3 separate regions of the Homo sapiens genome follow, and all the other regions are linked to region 3. Evidence: fine-mapped expression QTL. A gene starts in region 3. Each other region holds a variant in brackets. All regions are shown on one strand. Distances are between the middles of the regions.

What was found. PIP is the estimated chance that this variant, and not a neighbour inherited with it, causes the effect.
Region 1: its variant is the best candidate, but not a certain one, in a credible set for the expression of DHX33 in thyroid (GTEx, PIP 0.51).
Region 2: its variant is the best candidate, but not a certain one, in a credible set for the expression of DHX33 in sun-exposed skin (GTEx, PIP 0.57).

The regions. Positions count from the first base shown.
Region 1 is chr17:5,439,150-5,450,233 of GRCh38, reverse strand. DHX33 (DEAH-box helicase 33) reads left to right here. Exons shown (of 12, transcript NM_020162.4): 10 at 1-31; 11 at 1,339-1,425; 12 at 5,721-9,317. The coding sequence ends at 6,029. It overlaps C1QBP (complement C1q binding protein), which reads left to right and starts at 11,079. Exons shown (of 6, transcript NM_001212.4): 1 at 11,079-11,084. RefSeq lists an enhancer at 10,683-10,862 and silencers at 10,922-11,084, 11,083-11,084. The variant CACGA/A (reference allele first, on the strand shown) is at 6,400.
Region 2 is chr17:5,338,725-5,343,724 of GRCh38, reverse strand. The region is part of intron 5 of RABEP1 (rabaptin, RAB GTPase binding effector protein 1); the gene reads right to left. Among named protein-coding and RNA genes, the nearest start is that of RABEP1, 59 kb to the right of the region's middle. The variant C/G (reference allele first, on the strand shown) is at 2,071.
Region 3 is chr17:5,461,186-5,472,269 of GRCh38, reverse strand. DHX33 (DEAH-box helicase 33) reads left to right here and starts at 3,288. Exons shown (of 12, transcript NM_020162.4): 1 at 3,288-3,699; 2 at 8,581-8,741; 3 at 9,724-9,951. The coding sequence starts at 3,411. DERL2 (derlin 2) reads left to right here. Exons shown (of 7, transcript NM_016041.5): 7 at 1-1,016. DHX33-DT (DHX33 divergent transcript) reads right to left here and starts at 3,178. Exons shown (of 3, transcript NR_135644.1): 1 at 3,131-3,178; 2 at 2,276-2,356; 3 at 1,910-2,178. RefSeq lists enhancers at 3,195-3,264, 3,645-3,864, 3,654-4,236.

The DNA.
Region 1 (11,084 bases), 22 kb after region 3:
TCGGACCTTCAAAAACCTAGGCGGAAATAAGGTGAGCCTTGTCTTGCACCTGTTCTCCAGCGATAGCTGCTTGTCTCTGCTATGTGCTTCCCTTTTTCTACTGAAGCCGTGCAAAAAGTACGCTTTCCCTTTTTGGCTAAATTATCTAAAGAATCACAAAAAGAAAGCCAGACAGCATTTCAGAAATGCTTCAGTACCGAAGCAGTGTCATTCTGGTCTCTGTTCCGAATGTGTTTAAGTCAACAAGACTTAAGTGACTCCCAACCCATCAAAACTTAATTGGAACTTGATTAAGTAATATGTCTAATAATGATAGTGCGTACCAATGAATGAGTACTTACTCTGTGCCAAGCCCCATGCTAAGCACTTCTTAATGTAAGATCTCATTTATTCAGTAAAGTAATCCTAAGAAATGAGCACTATAATTATTATTTTTTATATTCATGAAACATGTAGTCATGGAAACGAAGCTTCGTGCAGTTGAAAAACTTGCCCAGGGCCAGGCACAGTGTCTCAAGCTTGTAATCCCAGCACTTTGGGAAGCCAGGGCAGGTGGATCACTTGAGCCCAGGACTTCCAGACCAGCCTGGCCAACATGGCAAAACCCCGTCTCTACTAAAAATACAAGAATTAGCCGGGCGTGGTTGTGCATACCTGTAATCCCAGCTACTCGGGAGGCTGAGGCATGAGAATCATTTGAACCTGGGAGGCAGAGGTTGCAGTGAGCCGAGATCGTGCCACTGCACTCCAGCCTAGGTGACAGAGCGAGACTCTATCTATCTCCAAAAAAAGAAAAAAGAAAGAAGTCTTACATAAATTGACTGGGCATTTCTGTTTTGTTTTCTGTGTCTGTTCATATCCTTTGTCCATTTTTCTACTGGGTCGTTGGTCTTTTTCTTAATGACTTGTAGAACTTTTAAAATCAATTCTAGAGATTCTAATCATTTATTGGGTATGATGAGACAAATATCCCAATCTGGGAAACTTCAAGTTTTTCTTTAGTTTAAATTATTAACACTTTTCTTATAGTTCATGTTTTTTGATATAAAGATATTTTCCTACGTTTCTTTTTGGCACCTGAAGTTTTTTCTCTGAATTCAACTGTGTTCTAAAAATGTTGTTATATTTTCTCTATAGAGATGAGAGGATTGTTAGCTGGGCATGGTGGCATGTGCAGATAGTTCAAGCTATCTGGGAGGCTGAGGTGGGAGGATTGGTTTGCAGTGAGCTATGATTGTATCACTGCACTCCAGCCTAGGGAACAGAGCAAGACCCCGTCTCTGTGAACATATAAATGGTGAATGAGTGGATTGTGATATCACTCTTTCTCCTATTCAGGATTGGTGCAAAGAGAATTTTGTCAACAGCAAGAATATGACGCTGGTAGCAGAAGTCAGAGCACAGCTGAGGGACATCTGCTTAAAGGTATCGTCTGGTCCTAGTGTTCTGTGGGTGACAAAGCTGTCACTTTGTTCAAGGTAGAAATTTTGAAGTTGCTTATTGCTAGTGATTATAAAAGGATTTCTCATTGTAGCAAATTTCACAAATAAGAAAAAAGGAAGTTACCCACAATTCCACAATTCAGTAGTTTAGCCTATTTCCTAATAGCCTAGTTTTTATTGTATTTTTTTACATAGTAAATTATATGTATAATTTATATTTGGTTTTATAATCTTTATAAGCATTTTCCAGTGTTAGAATTCTTCATAAGATTTTTTTTAAGTATGAATATCTGCATTATTTCCTTTTAGATTACCAAAGTTGTGTATAGTATTTGACACAATGCAGAAAATAGTGATTTATAATGTAGAAAGTTTAAAAGTCTCCCATAATCCTGCCCCTCCAGAGATAACTACTGTTAACAGTTTGGGGTAGCTCCTTCTAGAATTTGTTTCTGTGTATGTATGTTTTTGTGCATGTCTCTGTGCCTGTGTGTGAGCACACACATAACGGATACGTGCATATGAGGTACATGTTCCACAACTTCCTTTCTTCCACATGGCATATTTCTTTCTTTCTTTCTTTCTTGTTTATTATTTGAGACAGAGTCTTGCTCTGTCACCCAGGCTGGAGTGCAGTGGTACCATCTTGGCTCACCACAGCCTCCGCTCACTGCAACCTCTGCCTCCCGAGTTCAGGTGATTCTCCTGCCTCAGCCTCCCGAGTAGCTGGGATTACAGGCGTGCGTCACCACGCCTGGCTAATTTTTGTATTTTTAGTAGAGACGGGGTTTCACCACGTTGGCCAGACTGGTCTCGAACTCCTGACCTCAGGTGATTTGCCCGCCTCGGCCTCCCGAAGTGCTGGGATTCCAGGTGTGAGCCACTGTGCCTGGCCTCACATGCGTATTTCTCAAATCCTTCCTGTGGCTGGGCTTTCAGTGCTGCATGTGTCTAGCTCATTCATTTTAGTGATTTCATAGCATTTCATTGTATTCAGTGCAGTTTATTTAAGCCTCTAATAATGGTCATTTAGATTCTGTTGTAGTGACCATCCTCCGTATGTGCTGTGGTGCACACAGAATGAATTTCTAGATGGGGGAATTTGGATTTTGTTAGATATTGCCAAAGTGTCCACCGCAAAGTGTTTTTTTTCCTTTCTTTTTTTTTGAGACGGAGTTTTGCTCTTGTTGCCCAGGCTGGAGTGCAGTGGCGCGATCTTGGCTCACCACAACCTCTGCCTCCCGTGTTCAAGCAATTCTCCTGCCTCAGCCTCCCGAGTAGCTGGGACTACAGGCATGACCCACCACACCCGGCTAATATTTTGTATTTTTAGTAGAGACGAGGTTTCACCATGTTAGCCAGGATGGTTTTGGCCTCCCAAAGTGCTGGGATTACAGGCGTGAGCCACCACGCCCGGCCTAATTTTTTGTATTTTTAGTAGAGACGGGGTTTCACTATGTTGGCCAGGCTGGTCTCGAACTCCTGACCTCAGGCGATCCACTGGCCTTGGCCTCCCAAAGTGCTGGGGTTCCAGGTGTGAGCCACTGTGCCCGGCCCACAAAGTTTTATATTAGCTTTTTATTCCCTCTTAGAGTACATGGTGTTTTAAAGAGCTGTCATGGTATATTTAATGCTCGCATGACACTCCACATTTTATGTCAGAGATAGAGGGTAGCGGAAGTGTTCTTTTGCTGTTGATCACTGAGACAGTGTCCGTGTGTTTGCTGCTGTCCTGAGTACTCTGTGGTGAATGTCTTGTGCCCCCTCAGTGCGGACGCTGCTGGGAGACAGTCACAGCCTGTACCCAGGCCTGTGTCTGATGCCAACGGCCTACGGTTGGCACTAGAGCTGTTTCTTCTCATAGTAGCCTATTGTATTCTGTCTTTCACACATTTTTTTAAACTGCTTTTGTATTTGAACAGTTTCCTGCCAGTCTGTCTCTTGGCTTCATAAGTTTTCTCAATTTATCATTGACAGTAGAAACGGTGCTTCTCTATTAGTTGTGAATTTAGGACCCTGTAGTGGCCAGGGATACCTCTCATTATATGTCAGGCACTGGTAAGGTCCTGAGACTTTACAGACATGCCTACTCAGTAACTAAGTAATAATCTAGATGGTGACCTGACGTACATACACTCATGCCAGGAGGCCATCAAATTAAAATAATCACTATCATTCATGAAGTGTTTGTTCAGCACTGTTCTGAGTACTTTTTATGTGGCTGCCTTATTTAAACTCCTCATTTCTTTTTTTTTCTTTTTCAACTCAGACCTTAACCCAAAGGATAAAATCCTCATTTCAACCTATAAGATTGATTCTTTTGTTATTCCCATTTTACAAATGATGAAACTAAGCCTAATCAGGTTAAATAATTTGCCCCAAATCACTCAGCCAGTGAGTGGTAAAGCTGATAGTCTGGAAGGAGAGACCACCAGTTAGCCTCTGGGGCTTCTTGGAGGTGGTGACAACTGAGCTAGATCTTGACAGATAAGGAGATAAAAGAGTATCTTCCAGGCCAGGTGTGGTGGCTGGCTTATGCCTCTAGTCCCAGCACTTTGGGAGGCCCAAGCAGGTGGATTGCTTGAGGCCAAGAGTTCGAAATCAGCCTGACCAACATGGTGAAACCCCATCTCTGCTAAAAATACAAAACTAAGCTGAGCGTGGTGGTGCATGCCTATAACCCCAGCTACTCAGGAGGCTGAGGCACAAAAATCGCTTGAACCCAGGAGGCAGAGGTTGCCAGCGAGCTGGGATTGTGCCACTGCACTCCAGCCTGGGCAACAGAGTGAGACCCTGTCTCTTAAAAAAAAGTATCTTCTTCAGGCATAGATCAGCTGATTGTCAACAACAGAAACCCTAGAGCCATCATAAAGGACAAAATAAAGATTCTTCCAAGGATGGAAAGGTATCTCTGAGAACCGATAGGCAGGAAATAGAGTCACAGGAACCAGAAAAAGCCTGCAGGAGCCAGGCCCGCCACTTTCTCTGGACCTGCTGCTTCTCTTGCTTTGAGTGCCCTCTGCGTGCCTCCTTCCCTTTTCTCACCTTTACCTCCGCATGGAAGTGATTTCTCTGCATGGCCCCTCCACTCAAGAGCCCAGCAGAGATTGACAAGTTTTCCAGTTTCAAACCTAAAAGATGCCTGGAAGAGAAAAGCTGGCCAGCTTAGGTCCAGCGTGTGTGTACCACTGGTTTGTTCATCTGTGCCCAGGGGCGTAGGTTACATGCCCCACTCATCAAGAGCAGTAGAACAAGGACATTGACTGGTGACTGACATTTCCTCTGATGAGACAGGCAGCATTTCTACTAAGAGTAGCAAATGTGAAGGCACAGATAGGAATCATGAAACGGGGCGAGGAAAGAGAAGGCAGCCAGCTATGGGGGACCATGGAGTGTCTAAAGAAGAGTGGTGAGGCCGGGCGCGGTGGCTCACGCCTGTAATCCCAGCACTTTGGGAGGCCAAGGCGGGCAGATCACTTGAGGTCAGGAGTTCAAGACCAGCCTGACCAAAATGGTGAAACCCCGTTTCTACTAAAAATACAAAAATTAGCCAGGCGTGGTGGCAGGCGCCTGTAATCCCAGCTACTTGGGAGGCTAGGGCAGGAGAATAGCTTGAACCTGGGAGGTGGAGGTTGCAATGAGCTGAGATTGCGCCATTGCACTCCAGCCTGGGTGACAGAGGGAGACTCAGCCTCAAAAAAAAAAAAAGAAAGAAAGAAAAAGAGCGGTGAGAGGAAAGACAGGCGAGCAGCTCAGGGTGGCTCCTTCGTGGCTTCACCACGGGAAGTTTGCATTGTTTTGCAAGGAGCAGTAGAGACATTGTTGAAGGTATTTGAGTGGATGAAGAGTGATTCGAGTTGTGCTTTAGGTAGATTAGCTTGGCAGCAGCAGGTGGGTGAATCGGAGTGAGGAGATGGTGAGATGGTCAAAGCGAGAGGGAAGGGCCTTTCCTTTCCGGGCCGTCCTGATGGAATTTAGGTGAGGGGTGGGTCACCCAACCTGCCTGTGGTCTGGTGGCTAATGTGAGCACCTCCCTCCCAGCCCTACCTTCACAGGCGGTAGTTTCCCTGTTTCTGGTCCGTGCTCCTCCAGCTGGGCCTTCTTCCCCTGACCTTGCTGATCCTTGGTGACCACCTCCGAATGTCAGAATCCACATCGTTAGGCTCACAATGTGGGCTGCTTTTGCCCCAGTGGGTCCAGTTGCCCCAACACGCTGTGTAGTGCTGACCAGTGTTTACGTGTGGGGTCGGCTCCATTCCTCGCTTTCTCCCGAAACAGATGTCAATGCCAATCGCATCATCCCGAGGAGACGTGGAGAGTGTCCGCCGCTGCCTGGCTCACAGCCTCTTCATGAGCACCGCCGAGCTTCAGCCAGATGGCACCTATGCCACCACGGACACCCACCAGCCAGTGGCCATCCACCCGTCGTCTGTCCTCTTCCACTGCAAGCCGGCCTGCGTCGTGTACACTGAGCTGCTCTACACCAACAAGTGCTACATGCGGGACCTCTGCGTCATAGATGCACAGTGGCTGTACGAGGCTGCCCCTGAGTACTTTAGGAGGAAGCTGAGAACCGCCAGAAACTGAGCCGCCCCAGGATGCCGCCAGAATCACTGGTCCCTGGGAGCTTGGACTACAGTTGTCCTTACAGCAGGCTTCCAGGTTGGCGCTTAGAGAAGCCTTGGAATCAGCTGAAGGTGCCTGACTTCCAGGAGCGTGAAAGCATCTTTGCTCAACTCCTGGGACTGAACCATATAGACATGGACATATCATTTGTACCTGGAAACCTCAAAATTATGCTTTTGGTTCTTACTGGGTGACTTTGACTTAATTTAACACCTGAGCCTCAGTTTTCTCATCTGCCAAATGGGAGTAATAATAATAATCCTTATAAAATTGGGTTCATAAAGTTTAGAGAAAAGGAATGGAAAGTACCCAGAACTATGCCTGGAGCACG[CACGA/A]CACACGTACAGTGAGTTGGGAGCCGTTAGGCTGAATGTTACTGCTTGCCATATGATGTGAAGTACAGCAATATCCCAAGTTCTTGTGACTGAGGGAGATTTTCTGGAAGGGCCACAGGAGGTTGCGGAGCTTGGATGTTGCCCTTAGTTCTTGTTTAATGTCTCTCTGAATGCAGTTTTAAAATAGAAAACAAAACTGACTTCTGTAGAAGTTTCCAGAGGGAGGTGCTGTTATCTCGTACCTCCTGGGATGGCGATCCCTACTGAACGCTTGTGTCTCAGGGTGGACCACTCTGTGTCTGTCTCCAAGCAGAGACCAGTAAAGGAGCCTCCTGGTCCTCAGTGCGTGACCCTGTCAGTGCTTTCAGGAGACATGTAAGCTTCCTGGGTGAAGGTTGATTTGTACCTTCTGAATCCTGTCACGTGTAGACATGGGAAACTGACCTATCAGTGTTTTGTGTGTGTAGGTGACTCCCACATACACAGTTGCCATTTTTCTCTCTAACTGGGCACCAGTGAACATGCGGGCATGAGGAGTGACTGTGTACCATTTCAGCTGTTTCTTTTCGGGCAGTCCCCTGGTCAGAGGGGGTGGGGGTGGGGGAGGGGAGAGGGGTACCTAGAACCCAGAGAACATTGGCTTATGCCAGATACCACACCACATCTGGGCTTACATTCTTGTATCTTTTTTGGTGTGTGGGCGGGGGGGGTGGGGGGCAGTTCAGTGAAGTCTAGAAGACCTGCTGGACAAATTCTAAAAGAGCTAGAGCTGTAACACTTATTCTTGCATCTTATTAATTTTCTATGATATTTTTTCCTTCTTCGTAGGGACTTGGGACAATCTGGCTTTGCTGCTTTCTAACTGCTAGGCACCTCTCTCTAACCCTCATTGTCAGAGGGAATTGGAGGATATCCACAGTCTGTTCCTGTTCTGATATTCTGAGCAGAGAAAAGGCACTAACGGTTCCTCTTAGCTATTTAATTATCAGAAGCAAGTAATCTTTCCCCAGATAATATTTTGCCCTAGAAGAAGCCGTGATTTAGCTCTTTTATTGTGCTTACTTGGTCCAAATACATCTGTGGGGTGTTTTGTCATTTCTTAATGAATGAATCATAGTTATAACCAGGGGCCAAGCTGCCCAAGAGGCTCTTCAGAGATCATGGATGCTCTCTTTCTGGAAGCTGTGGCCTGATGGAGCAGCCCCATTCCAGGGTCCCATCTGTCCGGAGTTGTGTATGTCAAGTCCGGCTCAGTCTTTATTTCCAACACTAGCCGTGGTCCTGTGCAGTCAAGCTCTCAGCTAGTGTTTAGGGCTGTCTGTCAGAAATGGTTATACGTGGGCAAAAGAAGATCTGACAGCTCCTATATACCTTATCTTACTGAATTCTTAAACTTTGAACCAGTTCTTCCACTTACTGACTTGTTACCACTGCTGACTTTCTGAAAAGTTTTCCAGTTTTTGTTTTTTGTTTTTTGTTTTCCAGTAGGGGATTAGAATGTTTAGTCCTACTTAGTAAGAAAAATATTGTATTTTTAATCATTCATAGTGCTGGTAAAAAAAAAAAAAAAAAAAAAAAAATTGGGGGGTGGCCGGGCGCAGTGGCTCACACCTGTAATCCCAGCACTTTGGGAGGCCAAGGCGGGCGGATCACCTCATGCCTGTAATCCCAGCATTGGGATGGGAGGCTGAGGTGGGTGGATTGCTTGAGAAGTTCAAGACCAGCCTGGCCAACATGGCAAAACCCCGTCTCTACTAAAAATAGAAAACTTAGCTGGGCATGGTGGCACACGCCTGTAATCCCAGCTACCGGGGAGGCTGAGGCACAAGAATTGCTTGAACTTGGGAGGCAGAGTTTGTAGTGAGCCAAGATCACGCCACTGCATTCCAGCCTGGCCGACAGTGTGAGACGGTCTCAGAAAAAAAAAGAAAGAAAGAAAGAAAAAGAAAAAACTTGGGGTAATTTATGTCCAGCTTAAGTACCTGAACAGTTTCCGGAAATGTATATTTTTTTTCTGAGAGGCAAAGGATGTAAACAGCTTCTAAGTAGCTTTAATGTTTCTGTACAGAAATAAGTTTATCCCTGTAACATTGTGGTAGAGTTTTAATACAGTATTTAGTTTTTTATTGGGCTTTTTTAAAAAGTTAACTTTTAACATAGCTGCTCAGGGATTAAATCAGATTGGAAAACCCATTCTGACTCCACATACTGCTACAAAGAAATACATCGTTGTTTATATTGAGCTGCAGGAGATAGTACACTTTAAACTTAAGAAAGTTAAATGTTTCACAATAACATTGCAATATAATCTTCAGCTACTCTCTTTCCATTGGTAAAATCTCTGATGGTGTGATAACTCTTTGCCAACCTACGAAACCCATATCTGGAAGAATCACCAGCTCCCGTGAGCAGCTTCATGTAAATAGATGCACTCCAAGCAGATTGCATGCCTCAGGTGTTTGTCTTCTAGTAATCATGGAGTGTGCAACACCCAGAGTAACACTACAAGGGGCAGGACTGCAAACAGCAGGTCCTGGCTAAAAACCCTTAATGCTGCATTGCTGCCAGTTGTAAAGAGATGCCTGAATGGAGGCAAGTTCTGCCCTGTGGGTGAAACTGATGATGTACTGTACTGTCATATATAAATCCACTAAATCCAGCTACCAGGAACTGCCTGGAACTGTGGCCATGCATTTTTTTTTTTCTTTAAAGACCAGTGTGATAGTAGGCCATGCATCTGAGATACGATATTCCTTGGTAACTAGAGGGAGAAAAAAAAATCAAGTAGGTTCAGGCTTATGTTGTATTTTGAGAGTCTGGTTTTATTTGAACAGAAATAACTCTACAGAAAGCTCTTGTAAATAATGCTCAAATTTGCACCCGACGATCAAATCCATTAAAAATGAATCTTGTATATGATGTGTGTGGCTTGTTTCTTGCATCTCTTTTCCATTATTCATAGAAAATTATTTAGAAAATATTAAGTGTTAGTCTTACCATGAGTTAGTAAGACATACCTTCTTAGTAGCTTATATGTCCTGTATATCCTGGGAAGGTAGGATTGTTGATTTTTAATAAATCTGAACCCTGTCTTTGGGTTATATTAATTTACTGGAGAAACTCACAGAACTCAGGGAAACACATTTACCGGTTTCATACAAAAGATATGACCAAGGATACAGATAAGGAGATGAGCAGGGTGGGGAATGGGGAAGAAGCTCCCAGCCTCCATGCCGTCCCTGGACCACCACCCTCCAGGAACCTCCATGTATTTAGCTATCAGAGGCTCTCCAAACCCTGTCCTCGGGTTTTTATGGAAGCCTCTGGACTTATCTAAATGATATAAGCTGGCTTCTTGTCCCCAGAAAAATGATGTTCCATTAGAACTTGGATGCAAGGTTGGAGGTGCAGAGAGGGAAGGTCACAAAAATTAATCATGGATCCTGCCCTTGAGGATGTCACAGTCTGGTTGGGTTTAACCTGGTTAAAGCAGCAACGCTAGGAGGTTCCTGTTGAAAAGAGAATGAAGCATATGGGCTGGGTGCGCACAAGCATGAGTTCCGAGCCGGTGGAAAAAAAGGTTCTAGAAGGCCTCTTTCAGGAAAACCCTCAGACTTTCCTTTGCTCTCACAACACAACAATCAACACAGAAGACTTATGTGGCCAAAGGTTTGGGTTTTTCCCCTCCACACTAAGCAGCAGACACCAGCTGGGTGTCCTCCAATTCAATCCCAACAGTATCTACCTGGAGATAGTGTCAGATCCCATAGGTTGAGGGCTCAGTCCCCAAGACCGCCCCCACCTTCAGACAGCAATGGCAAGTCTGGGCCTCTGAAACTTCCGACCAACCCGCTTCAAGTTGGGGTTCCCACGACCCCCCTCTTTGGATTATGTTAACTCACTGGAGCAGTTCACAGAACTCAGGGAAACACATTCACCGGTTTCATATAAAGGATATGACCAAGGATACAGATGAGATGAGCAGGGTGGGGAATGGGGAAGAAGCTCCGAGGTTCCTTGCCTACCCTGGGCCACCACCCTCCAGGAACCTCTACGTATTCAGCTGTCAGAGGCTCTGCAAACCCTCTCCTCTTGGGTTTTTATGGAAGCTTCTGGACATCAGCATCCCTTCCCCCAGGGTATATGGTGGGACCTTCTCTGGGAAGGGACTTAAGACCCATAATCAGAAATGTGGAAGGAGATTAGAGTCCTGCTTTGGGGCAGGTAAAAGGAGGGCAGGAGAAGGGGAGAGTCTGTTTCCTGAGGCCTAACACACCCAACATTATCACAGAACATTGTAACAAGGGCTATAGGAGTTACGACCCAGGAACTGTGGATGAAAACCAATACATATATATATCATAACACCACAGCCTCCTAGAGGAAAGTGACCGTGGAAGGGTCTGGTGAGAGCTGGCGGGAGACAAGAGTGCATTCCACGCAGCCCAAAAGCCTTGCGTGCTTTGAGAACAGCAGGTGGAAAGTGGGTAAGCGGCCACTAGAGGGAATTAAACAGCTTCGGACAGCGGACTCGGCAGCGCAGCAAGAAAGCTCCGGAATCCGGATTCGAGGCTTCCCGGGCTGCACCGGAGTCTCCAGCAGAGGGCGCGATTCCGCCCGCTGGCCTTAGGTCGTCAGAGCGCCGGCGCGGGAAGCGCTTCCGGGCAGGGGCGGGGCTTCC
Region 2 (5,000 bases), 130 kb after region 3:
CAGCCTAGGCAACACAGCAAGACCCTGACTCAAAAAAAAAAAAAAAAAAAAAAAGAGAAAAGAAAGAAAGAAATCTTTTTGAAGACAACAAGGTGGAGAGAGTGGGTCTACCTATCAGATAGTACGACTTGAAGTAAAGCTACTATAATTAAGATAGTTCGTTACCGGTTTAGAAATAAACCTGTCTCCCGGGCTGGAGTGCAGTGGCCCAATCTCAGCTCACTGCAACTTCCACCTCCTGGGTTCAAGTGATTCTCATGATTCTCATGCCTCGTCCCGAGTAGCTGGGACTACAGGTATGCACCACCACATCTGGCTAATTTTTGTATTTTTTGTAAAGAAAGAGTTTCACTATGTTGTGCTGGCTGGTCTTGAACTCCTAAGCTCAAGCAATCTGCCCACCTCAGCCTCCCAAAGTGCTGGAATTACAGGCATGAGCCACCGCACATGGCCAGATAATAATTTATTTATTTTGAGACGGAGTTTCACTCGTCGCCTAGGCTGGAGTGCAATGGTGCGATCTTGGCTCCCCGCAACCTCCGCCTCCCAGGTTCAAGCGATTCTCCTGCCTCAGCCCCCCAAGTAGCTGGGATTACAGGCGGATGCCCAGCTAATTTTTGCATTTTTAGTAGAGGCAGGGTTTCACCATGTTGGCCAGGCTGGTCCCGAACTCCTGACCTCAGGTGACCCACCTGCCTTGGCCTCCCAAAGTGCTGAGATGGCAGGCGCGAGCCACCACACTCAGCCAAAAAGGGTATTTTTTAACAATCCATTCTTCACCCACTGATTTGTAATGCCACCTGTCATATATCAAATTTACACATATATAGGTCTGTTTCTGGGCTTTCTGTTTTATTGATCCATTTGTTTATCCCTAAACCAGTAACAAACTACCTTAATTATAGTAGCTTTACTGTGGTCCTGCTATCTGGTAGGTAGGCCAAGTCTCCTCATCTTGTCTTCAAAATTTTGCTAAGTATTTTCCTGTTCCTTCACTTCTCTATATGAAGTCTACTTCTAGAACTGAATTATCAAGTTCCTAATTAAACCCTATTGAAATTTAAGTAAAATTTAAAAATTTGGGGATACAATGTCTACTTTATAATGCTGTGTGTGTGTGAGACAGAGTCTCGCTCTACTGCCCAGGCTGGAGTGCAGTGGCACGACCTCAGCTCACTGCAACCTCTGCCTCCTGAGAGATTGGCACTACAGGCTTCCGCAACCATGCTCGACTAATTTTTGTACTTTTAGTAGAGACTGGGTTTCACCATGCTGGCCAGGCTGGTCTCAAACTCCTAACCTCAGGTGATCCCCCTACCTTGGCCTCCTAAAGTGCTGGGATTACAGACGTGAGCCACTGCACCCGGCCCAATGCTCTATCTTTTCATTCAGGAAAATACAGATTCAGGTCCTCATTTATTATGTAGTCTATAAGGACCCTGCCCATCTTTATTTAGCTATATTGGTAGCTAACTAGTTTTTCTTTTTCTTTTTTTTCTTTTTTTTTACTCTTGTGAATAGGATCAATCTTTTTTCCACCACTGCATTCTTCAACTGGTTATCACTGGGGCATAGAAAAACAATTATCTTAGTATGTTGATTTTGTTTGAACAACTTTCAAATTGTTGAACTCTTATTAGGTCTAACAATCTGTTGTACATTCTCTGGTTTCTTTATACAGACAATTGAATCAGTCTCGTTGCTTTCTTTCCAGTTCTTATGCCTCATTTCTGAATTACTGAGCATGGGTCTGCCCCAGAATGTTCCCACCATTAATGGTAAGGCTGCTAAATATTCACCCTTAACTATGTTTGCCAAAGGTTTGATAAATAGCCCTTTACTAAGTTATTGAGTGGTCAAATTTCTCAAATACCTCTCTGAATCCAAAATGAATATAATGCTGTTCTTCTACAATCATTTCACGTGTACACTGCAATGATAGATTTTCCGATAAATTTCTGGGAATACACCCTACTTGGTCATGATGTATTTCTCCCCCTTTATTTTACCTACGATGTTGAAAATTTTAGCTTCTGTATTCCTGAGACAGATCTATAATTTCTTCTCATA[C/G]TACCTTTCTATGTGTTTGCTCACTTGTAGTGAAGATCTACTAGTCTCATAAAAACAGTTGGAGAGCTTTCTCTCTTTTTGTATTCCCTGAGAGTTCGTAAAATATAAGAATTTGCTCTTTCCAGAAAGTCTGGAAAAACTTACCTGTAAAATCAACAGTTTAATATCTTTTGGTGAGAGGAGGCAAGAGACAATAAGATTTTTTACTCTAGATCCACTTTCTTTAATAATTACTGACTACCTTTCCTGTTTTGGAATAATTTGGGCTAATTATCTTTTATTAGAAATTTTTTCATCTGTTTTCAAATTTATTTGTGTGACAGTTTATAGTATTTGTTATTTTTAAATTTCTACTGATTTGTAGTTATGTTCTTTTTTTTAAGACAGGCTCCCTTGCCCAGGCTGGCGTGCAGTGGAGCCACCATGGCTCACCACAGCCTCAACTCCTTGGGCTCAAGTGATCCTTCTGCCTCAGCCTCACAAAGTGCTAGGATTACAGGCATGAGCCTCTACACTCGGACTCACTTCTGATTTCTCATTTTTGTTTTCATTTTTCCTGATCAGTCTTACCAGAGATTTGTCTATAGTTTTTCCATTTTTTCATTATATTGATAGTCTCTATTGTTCTTTTGCTTTTCTATTTCACAAATTCCTATGTTTATATTATTCATTTCCATTTATTTTGTTTGTACTTTTTTTTTTTTTTGAGACGGAGTTTTGCTCTTGTTGCCCAGGCTGGAGTGCAATGGCAAGATCTCAGCTCACTGCAACCTCTGCCTCCTGGGTTCAAGCAATTCTCCTGCCTCAGCCTCCCCAGTAGCTGGGATTATAGGCGCCCGCCACCACGCCCAGCTAATTTTTTGCATTTTTAGTAGAGATGGGGTTTCACTACGTTGGCCAGGCTGGTCTCGAACTCCTGACCTCAGGCGATCCACCCACCTCAGCCTCCCAAAGTGCTGGGATTACAGGCATGAGCCACTGCGCCCGGCTCAGTTTGTACTTTTTTTTTTTTTTTAAAGATCTGGCATTATTCACATCATTCTAAATATTTTGTAATTACTTTTTCCATGAGTATTTTTTTCATGTCCAAGCATTTTAACTATCATTTTAGCGTAAATACCTGAATAACCCATAGTTACAGAATTGGGTCTGTGTAACCTCAATTCTAAGATAATGTATCTAAAAATAACTATACCTTGTCCCAGGTACTATCCTAAAGGTTTATAGGTATTAATTTATATGTTCCTCATAATAGCCATACAGTGGCTACTATAGGGATTAATTTATATGTTCCTCATAATAGCCATATGGTGACTATTAAGGTGGGCTTATTATCCCCATTTCACAGTTGAGAAAATCAAAGCACAGTATGATTAAGTAATTTGCCCAAGGTAACCCAGGCTACTAAATGCTGAGCTCTTAACTATTATGTTCTAGTACTGTATGCGATACCATCTCACTCTTGGATACCGAGTTCTGTGTGTCAATTACAACTAAATAACTAACCTGATAGTTCAAAATGTCTATAGCTCTACTAATAATTTTTTCTGATTGTATTCTGTAAAGGTCAATTTTAATCTGCTACTATATTTGTGAAAGTCAGTTTCTCCTTGTAATTGTCATTATTAGTTTATGCATTTCATGACTATGTAAGGTGCATTCAAGTTCATGACTATTATATCTTATTGATGAACTGTTTATTAGATAGGATCCCTCTTTATCTCTATTAGTGGCTTTTCCCCCTTATCCTATCTTTGTGATACTACACTTGGTATATCAGCTTTCTTTTGGTTCGAATTTACATGGTATATTTTTATCCCTTTATTTTCAGTATTTTTTTCTTTCTTTTTTTGAGATGGAGTCTCACTCTGTCGCCCAGGCTGGAGTGCAGTGGTACAGTCTCAGGTAACTGCAACAATCTCCACCTCCTGGGTTTGAGCAATTCTCCTGCCTCAGCCTCCCAAGTAGAAGGGACTACAAGGCGCGTGGCCACCACGCCTGGCTAATTTTTGTATTTTTAGTAGAGACAGGGTTTCACCATGTTGGCCAGGCTGGTCTCGAACTCCTGACCTCAGGTGATCCACCCACCTCAGCCTCCCAAAGTGCTGGGATTATAGGCATGAGCCACCGCGCCCAGGCTTCTTTTAAGACAGAGTCTCACTCTATCACGTAGACTGGAGTGCAGTGGCATGATCATGGTTCACTGCAACTTCAACCTTTTGGGTTGAAGTAATTCTCCCATCTCAGCCTCTCAAGTAGCCGGGACCACAGGCACACACCACTATAACTGGCTAATATTTTCAGTCTTACCTTGTGGTTTGATTTTAGGCATAGCTCTTACAAGTAACATAAAGTTAGATTTTTACAATCCAATGTGATAATCTCTTTTAAACATAGGTATCAGTTTACATTTACCAAGACTATTGATAAATTCCCATTTATTTTCATATTGTTTTTATTTTCTTATGCTTCTTTTGTTCCTACTTTCTTCCTTTTTTTCTTTGGGTGTGGGGGACAGGGTCTCACTCTGTCACCCAGTCTGGAGTGCCAGTTCACTGTAGTCTCAAACTCCCGGGCTGAAGTAATCCTCCCATCTCAGTCTCCCAAGTAGGTGGGACAACAGGCATGCACCACCGTGTCTGGCTTTTTAAAAAATTTTTGTAGAGACAGGGGTCTCACTATGTTGCCCAGGCTGGTCTCAAATTCCTGGGCACAAGCAATTCTCCCGCCTCAGCTTCCTGAAGTATTGGGATTACAGGTGTGAGCCACAACACCTGGCCTGTTCCTACTTTAATTCTTTTGCTGTGTCTTTATGGCCAACAAATTCAGCAATACTATAGCTACATTATCTCTAAAAGATCAATGCTGGAGCTGGCATCAGAAAACAAGGTCAACTTCGAACAGTTTATTTTCCTTAATAGGAAAATGAA
Region 3 (11,084 bases):
ATTTTGAGACCAACCAACTAACCTTACACATAATTTGAGGGATTCCTGGATTCTTCTAGTGATACTGAAAAGCACACTTGACTAAAGCATAGTGTTTTTTGTTTGTTATGGAAATACGGTATACGTTCATTTAAAAATAAATGGACATACAAATTGCATCTCCTTAGGAGATACATTTTATATACATTTCGGTGCGTTTTTTTCCAGTATGGATTTCTATTTGTTTCTCTCTTCCTCTTGTTTTTTCTGTGTCACTCTTGTATGTCCTCATATCTTTCATACCTCTTGTGTAGTCTCTAGAAGCAGAACACCTAAGTCCTGGGTCTGGATAATGAAACCCTCAGTCTCTGGGGCCTCTGAAAATAAGGAAGCATTGGAGCTATTGCCATGTTGAGTAATGGGCTTCCTAGAACTATTGTCATCTATCCTGCCAGTGTTTTATGTTGTAGCTGTTTTTCTTTGACAGGTGAGTTCCAGCTATGTTGTTAGTCATGATCCTGCCATTATTTTCTGTGTTCTGTAGGATGTCTCCAGGCTACTTAAACATATTTTATGAGTTTGCAATAAAATTGTTGAATCTTGTATGATCAAGTCACTCCTCTGCTCAGAAATCCACAGTGACTTCTTAGTAAGCCCCTACATTATATGCATACTTGTTTTTTTCTTAACTTTACTCCCACTTCTACCTAACAGGGACCTCAACTTAAGTCTCTTCAGTTCTTCAAGGCCTGGCCTTGTTCCTGATTCCTCAAAAAATCTTGACTCTAAGGCCTATTTTATTGTCTGTCTCTGAATCCCTATAAAGCTTCAAGTCTGTATGACATTCTTAACGCCAAATTATATATTGTCTTGTACTGTTCCTAGCTGGTACATGTATATTAGTCTTGTCTCCCTCATGAGAATGTAAGCTCCTTAAGGGCAGGGACCATGTCTTAATTTTTGTATCCACCACAGTGCCTAGCACAGTGCTTGGCACATGGGTGCTGAATAAATACCTTTGTTTATTGATCAGCAAAGTATTATCTGGTATTTTTAATTATAGAGGGATTAAAGTGTATGCATGCAAGCTTGAGCCTAGTTGCTGAAGCTTGTGGTTGTCTCTGAAAGTGGGATAGAGGGAAACTGAACATGATCAAGGGCAGTAATTTGGTGGTCGGAAAAGCAAAGGTGACCACCAGCTGTTATGGTCGTGATCAGACCAGTTAAGTCCACAGACCATCCCAGACAAGTTAAAAATGAAATGTGTCTGACACTTCGTCGTTTGAAGGAAGAACCAGGATATTCTCTGAATAGTTATTAGCTTGTCAGTATCTACATATGAAAGCTGGTGAACCCCAAGAGACTTCTTCAGGAGAAACAGCAGATTTCAGTCTACCAATGGGAGAAATGTGAGCAGCATGGCTTGATGCATATATAGGACTTAATTTTTCCACTCTTTGGTCCTCTTAGCTTTGAGGCTATAGAATAGCTGGATCATTAGGCCAGAGATTATGGATGAGTTACCTACAGATTTGTTACCTACCTATGTGCTTTGTTTTGACAGTACTTTTTTTTTTTTTAAGTTTAAACCTGTATTTAACATTGACAGATAAAAATCTTCACTTTTGGCTTTTCTTGAGAAAATTGGAAGATCTGGCAATAATAGGTCTACATGACAGCCATTGCCTAGAAATGATTAGGGGCTGCATGTAGAGGTGGAATGTGCTCCATCAAGAAATAAGTCCACCCATTTACATTACCTAAATTATTGTAATCATTTGGAACATCGGACTCCTACCTTAAGTTACTCTGGAAAGCACACTGGGAAAAAGGACTGGGATGTCTTTACTCAAAGTCCATAATTTGAGAGTTAACATTTATTATCCCTTGTAGTTTTGGGTTGCCTTTCTAAATATTTCAGGGTAGGAAGTGAAAATTTGTCAGTTTATTCTTAAACACAAATCTGCTGCTGGTTCAACGTGCACATTTTCAGTAATGCCTGGTCACCAAACTGTCAGCAACTAGAGGAAAATTATCTCCGACCTGGAGCAAAGGGGAGGTTTTTTGTTTTTAGACTAGCTCTCTCACGAATCACGGGAAGGGAGATATTTAACAGGGCGAGTTTCATGGAAACGAGCTTCAGAAGATACCCTTCACATGAGCTGAAGCTTACGGTGTATTCTCTGGAAATCACATTTCCTGTAAGAGCAAACAGCTACTTGGCATTCTCCGTGGTAAATTAGCAAATCATCTAAGAACTTTTAGGAGGGTAAGGAAGAACTAGTTATAATCCTACTTTTTTCTGCTGCAGTTCTGAATCTTCACTGAAGTGTCTGTGATGGGGTTGCACAGCCATGTAGAGAACTTGAGAGTCTGGCTGGAATGGTTGGGGGAAAGGAAAGATAAAAGACAATTTTAATTTCATTGAACTCCCTCCTTTCTCTGCTTGTATTACTGGAGGCGACCACATCCGTTGGAGGAGTCATTTTCTGAGTTAAATTCATGTATATCAGAATTGGTTTTCCTTTCTGTAACACAAGATGATCACAAAATTATGATTTGGGGACATCTGAATGACTAAGATGACTCAATTTCTTAATCTGTAAATTAGAGATAATCTAATAACCAGTATATACCACATAACTTATAAGTTGTTTAGAGGATTAGACAATGCACGTTTGCGCTTCTCATTGATTTTACAGAATTAAGTACTTTCCTTGAAGAGTGACTGTTATTTGGACAGAGAAGGGGAAAACGCGGGTTTACTGAAAAGAAGTAATGCTACTAGAACAAAACAATGGGCGGGGCGCGGTGGCTCACGCCTATAATCCCAGCACTTTGGGAGGCCGAGGCAGGCGGATCACCTGAGGTCGGGAGTTCAAGACCAGCCTGACCAACATGGAGAAACCCTGTCTCTACTAAAAATACAAAATTAGACGGGCCCCGGTGGCGCACGCCTGTAACCCCAGCTACTTGGGAGGCTGAGGCAGGAGAATCGCTTGAACCCAGGAGGCGGAGGTTGCAGTGTGAGCCGAGATCGCGCCATTGCACTCCAGCCTGGGCAACAAGAGCGAAACTCCATCTCAAAAAAAAAAAATAAAACAATGAGAAAAACCTCGTTAACCAAGACTACAGTCCCACGGAACCTTACATCCTGTGTTTCCCGGTTGTAGCTCCGGGCCTTTTCCTGGTTGTACCTCAGGCCCTGCTTTTCCCACCCCCAGGAAGTGAAAGCCTTCCCAAGCCCCCAAGGCATGCTGGGAGATGCAGTCCCTTTTTCTAAAGACTGGGGCGGCCGTGAGGTCATCGGTGGTCGCCGGGAGCCGCCAGCACGTGGCGGCGAGGAAGGGGCGGTGTGCTCCTGTTGTCTGCACCTGAGAGGGGGCAGGAGCTCTCGGCGCTTGCGCCTCCCGCCGCGGTGCCCTCCCGACATGCCGGAGGAGGCGGGCTTCCCGCCGGCCAAGAGATTCCGGCCAGGCTCTGGACCTCCGAGCCGCGCTGGGTCCTTCCCTCCCGGGAGGCAAGTGGTGATGCTGCTGACTGCGGGCAGCGGCGGCAGAGGAGGAGGAGGAGGCCGGAGGCAGCAGCCGCCCCTGGCCCAGCCCTCGGCCAGTCCCTACCCTGAAGCTGTGGAGCTGCAGCGCCGGAGTCTGCCCATCTTCCAAGCGCGGGGGCAACTGTTGGCCCAGCTCCGAAACCTGGACAACGCGGTCCTCATCGGTGAGTGGCCGCGCCGGCGGGCTCTTCCTTGCACTTCGTCCGTGGCTTAGCTAGAGCAGTTTTTCTTACATGCCTCTCAATCCCTTTCGTTCGTGGCTTCAACAAACCTGAATACCTTTTCTGGGCCAGACCTGGAGAGGGGCCTCGAAGAAGAGTCCGGCAGCCCTGCCCTGGAGGCGCTGGACAGCCCGGTGAGAGTGACCAACGTGTGTAGGCAAAGACTCACCTTCCGCGTAAAAGGGTAGAGAAACGTACCGGGGGCTTGCGGATCTTAGAAGAGTGGATCTGACCCGGTTTGTGAGGAGGCGGCTGGGGAGGTCGTGTGGGAGGGAGGGCATTCTAGGCAGGGGGGAAAGCCCGTTTGAGAGATGGGAACCTGAACACATTCCGGTCGAAAGGGAAGGTGTAGTTTCTGGTGCATGAAAAGAGGCAGAGTTGTGGGGCAGGGACTGATTTCATGGGGCTTATGATCCCCAACGTGTTAGAGGAGATACTGAAGGACGGAAAGGATGAGCAGCCAAAGAGAGGAAGGAGACCCATGAGTGCTGCTAGTCAAAGGAATAGAGAGTGAGCAGATGCAGCAGTCAAGTCCGGTTATACTGGACTTGGATGTGATGCCCACTGGATTTGGATGTGAGCTATTTGTAAGAGTTAAAGAAAAAGGAAAGAAACACGAAACGCGGCTGGCAGTTAAAGACAGCTTTTCTTTAGTTAAAACCTGAGAGGCGCTCCTGGCCGATTTCGGTCAGGAGCCCTTTCTCTTACAGACTAAGAGTATATATTGGTGTTAGGGTGAGGGGGCTTATCACAAGCTTGGAATGTTTATATGTGTGGAGAAGTTTTTGGCAGGGTTGGACTCTTTGGGAGCAGGGGATGTTATCTTGGGGCAGACATTTTTCCGGCCCGAGGGGGTTTATCTCCCGGCTGGCATATTCCCGGCTGGCATATTCCCGGCCAGAGTGGGGTTATCCCTTAACATGTCTCTGGTCGGGGAGGAGTTTGGAATGTTTCTGGCTGGAGATGTTATTTGTGGTTTATGGTCGTGCTGACCTTAGCCATTAGGCTGATACCTTTTGGATTTAGGCGGTTTTTTATTAAGGTGAACTTTTGAATGAGGGGCTTGTCCAAGATGGTGATGTTCCTGCTTTGTCAATCCAGACCCTATAGTTATAAAAAGGAGGAGGGACGGCATGTTCTTTCTGGCTACTTCCTGCAACGAGGGGATGGAGAGTTTCCTGGTCTCGGGTTGACTAGGAGCAATGCCGTCTGTAGATGTTTTTGGGTAGTTGTTTGTGAAATTGCCATGATCCTGTCAGTTAAAAATCTTTGAAAAAGATTAATTAGGCAGGGTAAGAACATTAGTTCCAGGCATATTATTAGGAGAGGGCCCAGGAATGGGATGACCCATGCTATGATTTTGTTTTCAAACCAAGAGTCCATTTGGTGGTTTTGGTACTCCCTTAGCTTTTTAGCCTTTTCTTTACGTTTTTTAGCAGCGCTTTTTACTAGGCCCGATTGGTTGATATAGAAAGAGGCGTGAGCCACCGCACCTGGCCCCCTCAAAACAATTATTTAACCTTTTAACGTAGGTAAAAATGTGCATTCTTATCCCTCCTGATAATCTTTTTACCGAAAGTGTACTTTACTTTCCTTACACACCTTGCACATAAAGTGTCTCTTCAATAGTTTTAAATACATGTTACACTGTTAACTTTTAGCAACCTTTACCTTTGTTGAAAACCTTGGTAAGTTCGGGATTTTAATTATGTGCTAGGTGTACAGCCTAGGACTTAGACAGAAGTGCAGTTAAGGTCTGGCTTATTTCAGCATTTAGCTCCATGTGTCCTAGGTTTTACCTAGCTGCAAAGCAGGCAAGTTCTACAGCTAAGAGTTATGGTGACATTTTATAAAGCATTCAGGAGGCCTAATCACTTTTAAATTGTAAAACATTTCTTGCATACATTTCCTCTCATAAAATTTTTCATGACTTTCACAGACTATCTCTGACACTATTGATCGTGGATCCATCCCATCGAGAGCTATTTCAACAAAGCTGTGTGGGTAACAGCTGATTTGTCATTGAGCTGAGGGCTGAAAGCAGGGGGAAGAGGCTTCTGTTTTGAGGAAAAAGGAGGGAAGCTGAGAGAAACTTTATGGATGCTGCTCGATTTAGGATGGGGTTATGTGTGGATGAATCCACCCATCCTCATAAGTTGAAAATATCCTAAGTTGGAAATGCATTTAATATGCCCAGCCTACTTTCAGTGTGCTCGGAACATGTACATTAGCCTATGGTTGGGTGATATTATCTAACATGAAACCTATTTTATAATAAAGTCTTGAATATTTCATGCAATTTATTGAATACCATACTGAAAGTGACAGTTGTGTGGGTACTCAAAAGTACAGTTTCTACTGTACGATTTTGACTTTTGCTCCATCCTGAAGTCAAACAGTTCTAAGACAGGGACCATCTGTATTCAGAGGTTGAGGGGAAGAACTCAGTAGGGAGGGAGGCAGAAGATAGAATCGAGCTAACAGAGCAAAGATCAGGAGGCATGGGGGACGGGGGAACTTGGCCACAAGGGCTAGATGCAGGGCTGGTCTGGAAGAGGAGGAAGGCTAAGAGGCTGCAGGGCTAGAGAACGGATGTAAGGATGGTGCACTGCAGAAGGGCTTCTAGGGGCAGTTAGGGAGAGACCACATTTTAGAACCCCACTTCTGTGAGACAGGTTCAGGAGCCCTGCTCAGAATGGGAGTCACTGGGCTTCAAGTGGGCCCTTGGGGAGGATGGAGACGAGACAGGCTGCAAAAACAAGAAAAAAGATCGATGGCAGTAGTGGTGCCTAGGTGCATTTCGGCTACACTATAAACTCAGGTTTGCTTCTGCACAGCCAGATTATAGGTGGAACATCCCAAATTTGAAAATCCGAAGTCAAGAATGGGCTCCAAGGAGCATTTCCTTTGAGTGTCATATCAGATGCTCAAAAAGTTTTGGATTTGGGAGCATTTAGGACTTCAGATTTTCACATTTAAAATGCTCAGCCAGTAAGTATAATGCAAATATTACAAAACTTGAAAGAATCCAAAGTTCAAAACACTTCTGGTTCCAAGCATTTTGTATTTTACTTTAGCAACGCTCTGTTGCCCTGGTATAGGAGCATGAAAGATAGAGACATGGATCAAAGTTTGGGGTTTTGCCTAGTGGATTCAGCAGGAAGATTGCAGAATAATCAAATCCTTTGTCTGATTCTTATCTGGGTCAGGAAGGATGAGCAGTCAGAGGGGGCTGACAGACTGACAGGGAAAAAAACCCACAAATCATGGGACTGGAGGACTTTTTGAAGTCAGAGAGGCCTGGTGGTAGCTAGAGGGAGGGGAAGGAAGCGCAGGTTTACTGAGTTCTTTGCTCTAATCAGGCACTGTTAAAGGAATTCACACAGGGTAGGAAGTAACATTTACTGCGTGCTTATTGTATGCAAAATACTCAAGTACACGAGAGGGACATTCAGAGCACTGCCCTCTGGGAGCTTCCCTTCTGGTGTTGGAGGAGGACGGACACATTTAAACGCTTCTGTACAACACAGGATGGTCAGTGCTGGAAGAGAGATGAACAAGGCACTACGGAGCCCAGAGGAGGGCCACTGTGCAGCCAGGGGAGCGTGTTTGAGGCCTAACTCATCTTAGAGTTTGCGAGGCAGGCAGTGTGAGGGCAGGTGTTCTGCCCATAGTGTGGGCAGAGGCAGAGGGTTTGAAGGGAGGCAGCAGGCTGGGGAGTGGCCAGGAGTTGAAGGCAGCAGTGCATGAATGGATGTCTCTTCATGTCAGTCAGTATGCAGAAATCTATGTAACGGTTGTATTTTATTTTATATTTTAACTATGTAAATTACCTTTTGAACATTTATATTGTTTCCAATTTTTTTCTGTCAGGAGCAAAATTGAATAAAATCTCTTTGAAGCTGTATCTTTATACACATGTTTACTTATTTTGTTAGAATCAATTTCTGCAAGTAGAATTGTGGGTCAAGGGATATAAACATTTTAAAGATTTAAAAAACATAATTTGACCACCTGAGAAACAATACCAATTAACCAGCTAATTTCACCAGCAGTATACATACCTGAATGCCCATTCTCCTGAGGCTTTACCAACACAGGGTATTTTATCTTTTACTTCTGACTTTGAGCTGTTTGTTTGGTGAAATTTATGTCAATTTGCTTTTTGTTGTTGTTGTTTTTCTAAGACAGGGTGTCATTCCGTTGCCCATGCTGGAGTGTAGTGGTGTGATCATGGCTCACTGCAGCCTCAACCTCTCAGGCTCAAGCAATATGCCCACCTCAGCCTTCAGAGTAGCTGGGACCACAGGCGTGCACCACCACGTCCAACTAATGTTTGTATTTTTTGTAGAGACGGCATCTCCCTATGTTGCCCAGGAGCAACTCCTGGGCTCAAGTGATCCTCCTCCCTTGGCCTCCCCACGTGCTAGGATTACAGGCATGAGCCACTGTGCCCAGCCGATTTGCATTTCTTTTTTTATTTTTATTATTTTTTTTGAGACAGTGTCTCACACTATCTCCCAGGCTGGCATGCAGTGGCACAATCATGGCTTACTGTAACCTTGAACTCCTGGGCCTCATGATCCTTCTGTCTCAGCCTCCCTAGTAGCTGGGACTACAGGCACATGCAACCACACCAGGCTAATTGTTGTTGTTGTTGAGACGGGGTCTTGCTATGTTGCCCAGGCTGATTTTGAACTCCTGGGCTCAAGAGAGCCTCCTACCTCGGCCTCCCAAAGTGCTGAGATTATAGGTGCCAGCCCTGGTGCCGAGCCCCAGTTTGCATTTCAGTGAGCCTTTTTTTTTTTTCCCCCTCTCTCCTAGGGGAAACTGGCTCTGGGAAGACAACTCAGATCCCTCAGTACCTGTATGAAGGAGGGATCAGCCGCCAGGGCATCATTGCTGTGACCCAGCCTCGTCGAGTAGCTGCCATCTCTCTTGCTACTAGAGTCTCAGATGAGAAGAGAACTGAACTTGGGAAGCTGGTACCTGGTTCCTTCTTGACTATTAGTACTTCTTGACTCAACAGCTCTCTCCCCATGCCCACTGCCTTTTATTTTTCTAAACAAGACTCCTTTTACATAGTGAGCTGCTTTCTTGCCTATTCTTCCGAGAGTTCTTTACCAGCTCCTGAGAGATCAGGGGCTCTATTGGTCCCATGTGCTTTGCTTTCAAAATCTGTCGTCAGGTTGGATAAATTAGTTGCTTTCCTTGAACATCTTAAGCCTTCAGTAACCTCTCTTAACTCTCTTATCTATATATCATTCTAGAAAAATTGTAAGCATTATGCCAGTGTATATGTGAGTATTGAGAATGAGTCTCAGAACTGTATATAAGACAGATTTATTTGTGTGTGTGTGTACTCATTTCACTTAAAAATACCTTAGACGTCTTTTCATATCTGTACATAGCTTCACATGAAACTTTTTTTTTTTTGGAGATAGTCTCGCTCGGTCGCCCAGGCTGAGGTGCAGTGGCGCAATCTTGGCTCACTGCAACTTCCGCCTCCAACCAAGCAATTCTCCTGCCTCAGCCTCCCGAGTAGCTGGGATTACAGACACGTGCCACCACACCCAGTGGCTAATTTTTGTATTTTTTAGTAGAGACGGGATTTCAGCATGTTGGTCAGGCTGGTCTCAAACTCCTGACCTCGTGATCTGCCTGCCCCAACCTCCCAAAGTGCTGGGATTACAGGTGTGAGCCACCACACCCGGCCCACATGAAACTATTAAATAGCTTGAGGTAGAAGGTTAATTTTAAATATTCCTTGTAATAGTTACATTAATTGCGGTTAAAGTAAACTTGACCATTGTCTCTCTCAGCAGCTAGACTGCATGCTTCCCAAGGGAGTGGGAAGCGTTGGTGTTGGTCTTGTTCACTGTGGTAGTGCAAGTGCCCAACTTAGTGCCGGACACAGTGGGCGCTCAAGAAATGTTTGGTGACTGAATAAATTGTTTCCCTGCACAGGTTGGCTATACAGTGCGCTTTGATGATGTCACCTCAGAAGACACCAGGATCAAGTTTCTGACAGATGGCATGCTTCTGCGTGAAGCAATTTCAGACTCTTTGCTTCGGAAATACAGCTGTGTCATTTTGGATGAAGCTCACGAACGGACTATCCACACAGATGTGCTCTTTGGAGTGGTGAAAGCTGCACAGAAGAGGAGAAAGGAACTCGGGAAACTTCCTCTGAAAGTATGAGGGAAACTTCCCCTGAAAGTATGAGGGAAACTTCCCCTGAAAGTATGCGTAACACACAGAAGGAAACAGGCCTGGCTGGGCGCGGTGGCTCACGCCTGTAATCCCAGCACTTTGGGAGGCCAAGGCCGGTGGATCACCTGAGGTCAGGAGTTCGAGACCAGCCTGGCCAACGTGGTGAAACCCCGTCTCTACTAAAAATATAAAAATTAGCTGGGTGTGGTGGCACACATCTGTAATCCCAGCTACTTGGGTGGCTGAGGCATGAGAATCGCCTGAACCCAGGAGGCGGAGGTTGCGGTGAGCTGAGATCACACCACTGCACTCCAGCCTGGGTGACAGAGCGAGACTCTGTCTCAAAAAAAAAAAAAAAAAAAAAGTGAAAGTTCATTAAATAGCATAACTTTATAGACAACTTGTATTTCAGGGAGTTGGCAGAAATATGATCTGAAAGTATCCAGATAATTGGCCCGGCACGGTGGCTCACGCCTGTAATCCCAGCACTTTGGGAGGCCGAGGCCGGTGGATCACCTGAGGTCAGGAGATCGAGACCAGCCTGGCCAACGTGGTGAAACCCCGTCTCTACTAAAAATACAAAAAATGATCCAGGCATGGTGGCACATGCCTGTCGTTCCAGCTACTAGGGAGGCTGAGGCAGGAGAGTCACTTGAACAAGACTGAAATTCCGTCTTGATTTTTTTTTTTTTTTGCACTCTGTTACCCAGGCTGCAGCGTGGTGACGCGATCTCAGCTCACTGCAAGCTCCGCCTCCCAGGTTCACGCCATTGCTTACCTCAGCCTCCCAAGTAGCTGGGACTACAGGCGCCCACCACCGCACCTGGCTAATTTTTTGTATTTTTAGTAGAGACGGGGTTTCACCGTGTTAGCCAGGATGGCCTCGATCTCCTGACCTCGTGATCCGCCTGCCTCGGCCTCCCAAAGTGCTGGGGCTGGGATTACAGACGTGAGCCACCGTGCCCGGTGAAACTCCATCTCAAAAAAAAAAAAAGAAGGAAAGGAAAGGAAACAGACCTGTGTGCTCTAGCAGGGTGTTTTCCTCTGCCTGTTCTGCTCAGAGCCTTGGAAGAAAGTAAACTGTGATGGGGGTGGCACAGGCCTCAATCATCTGC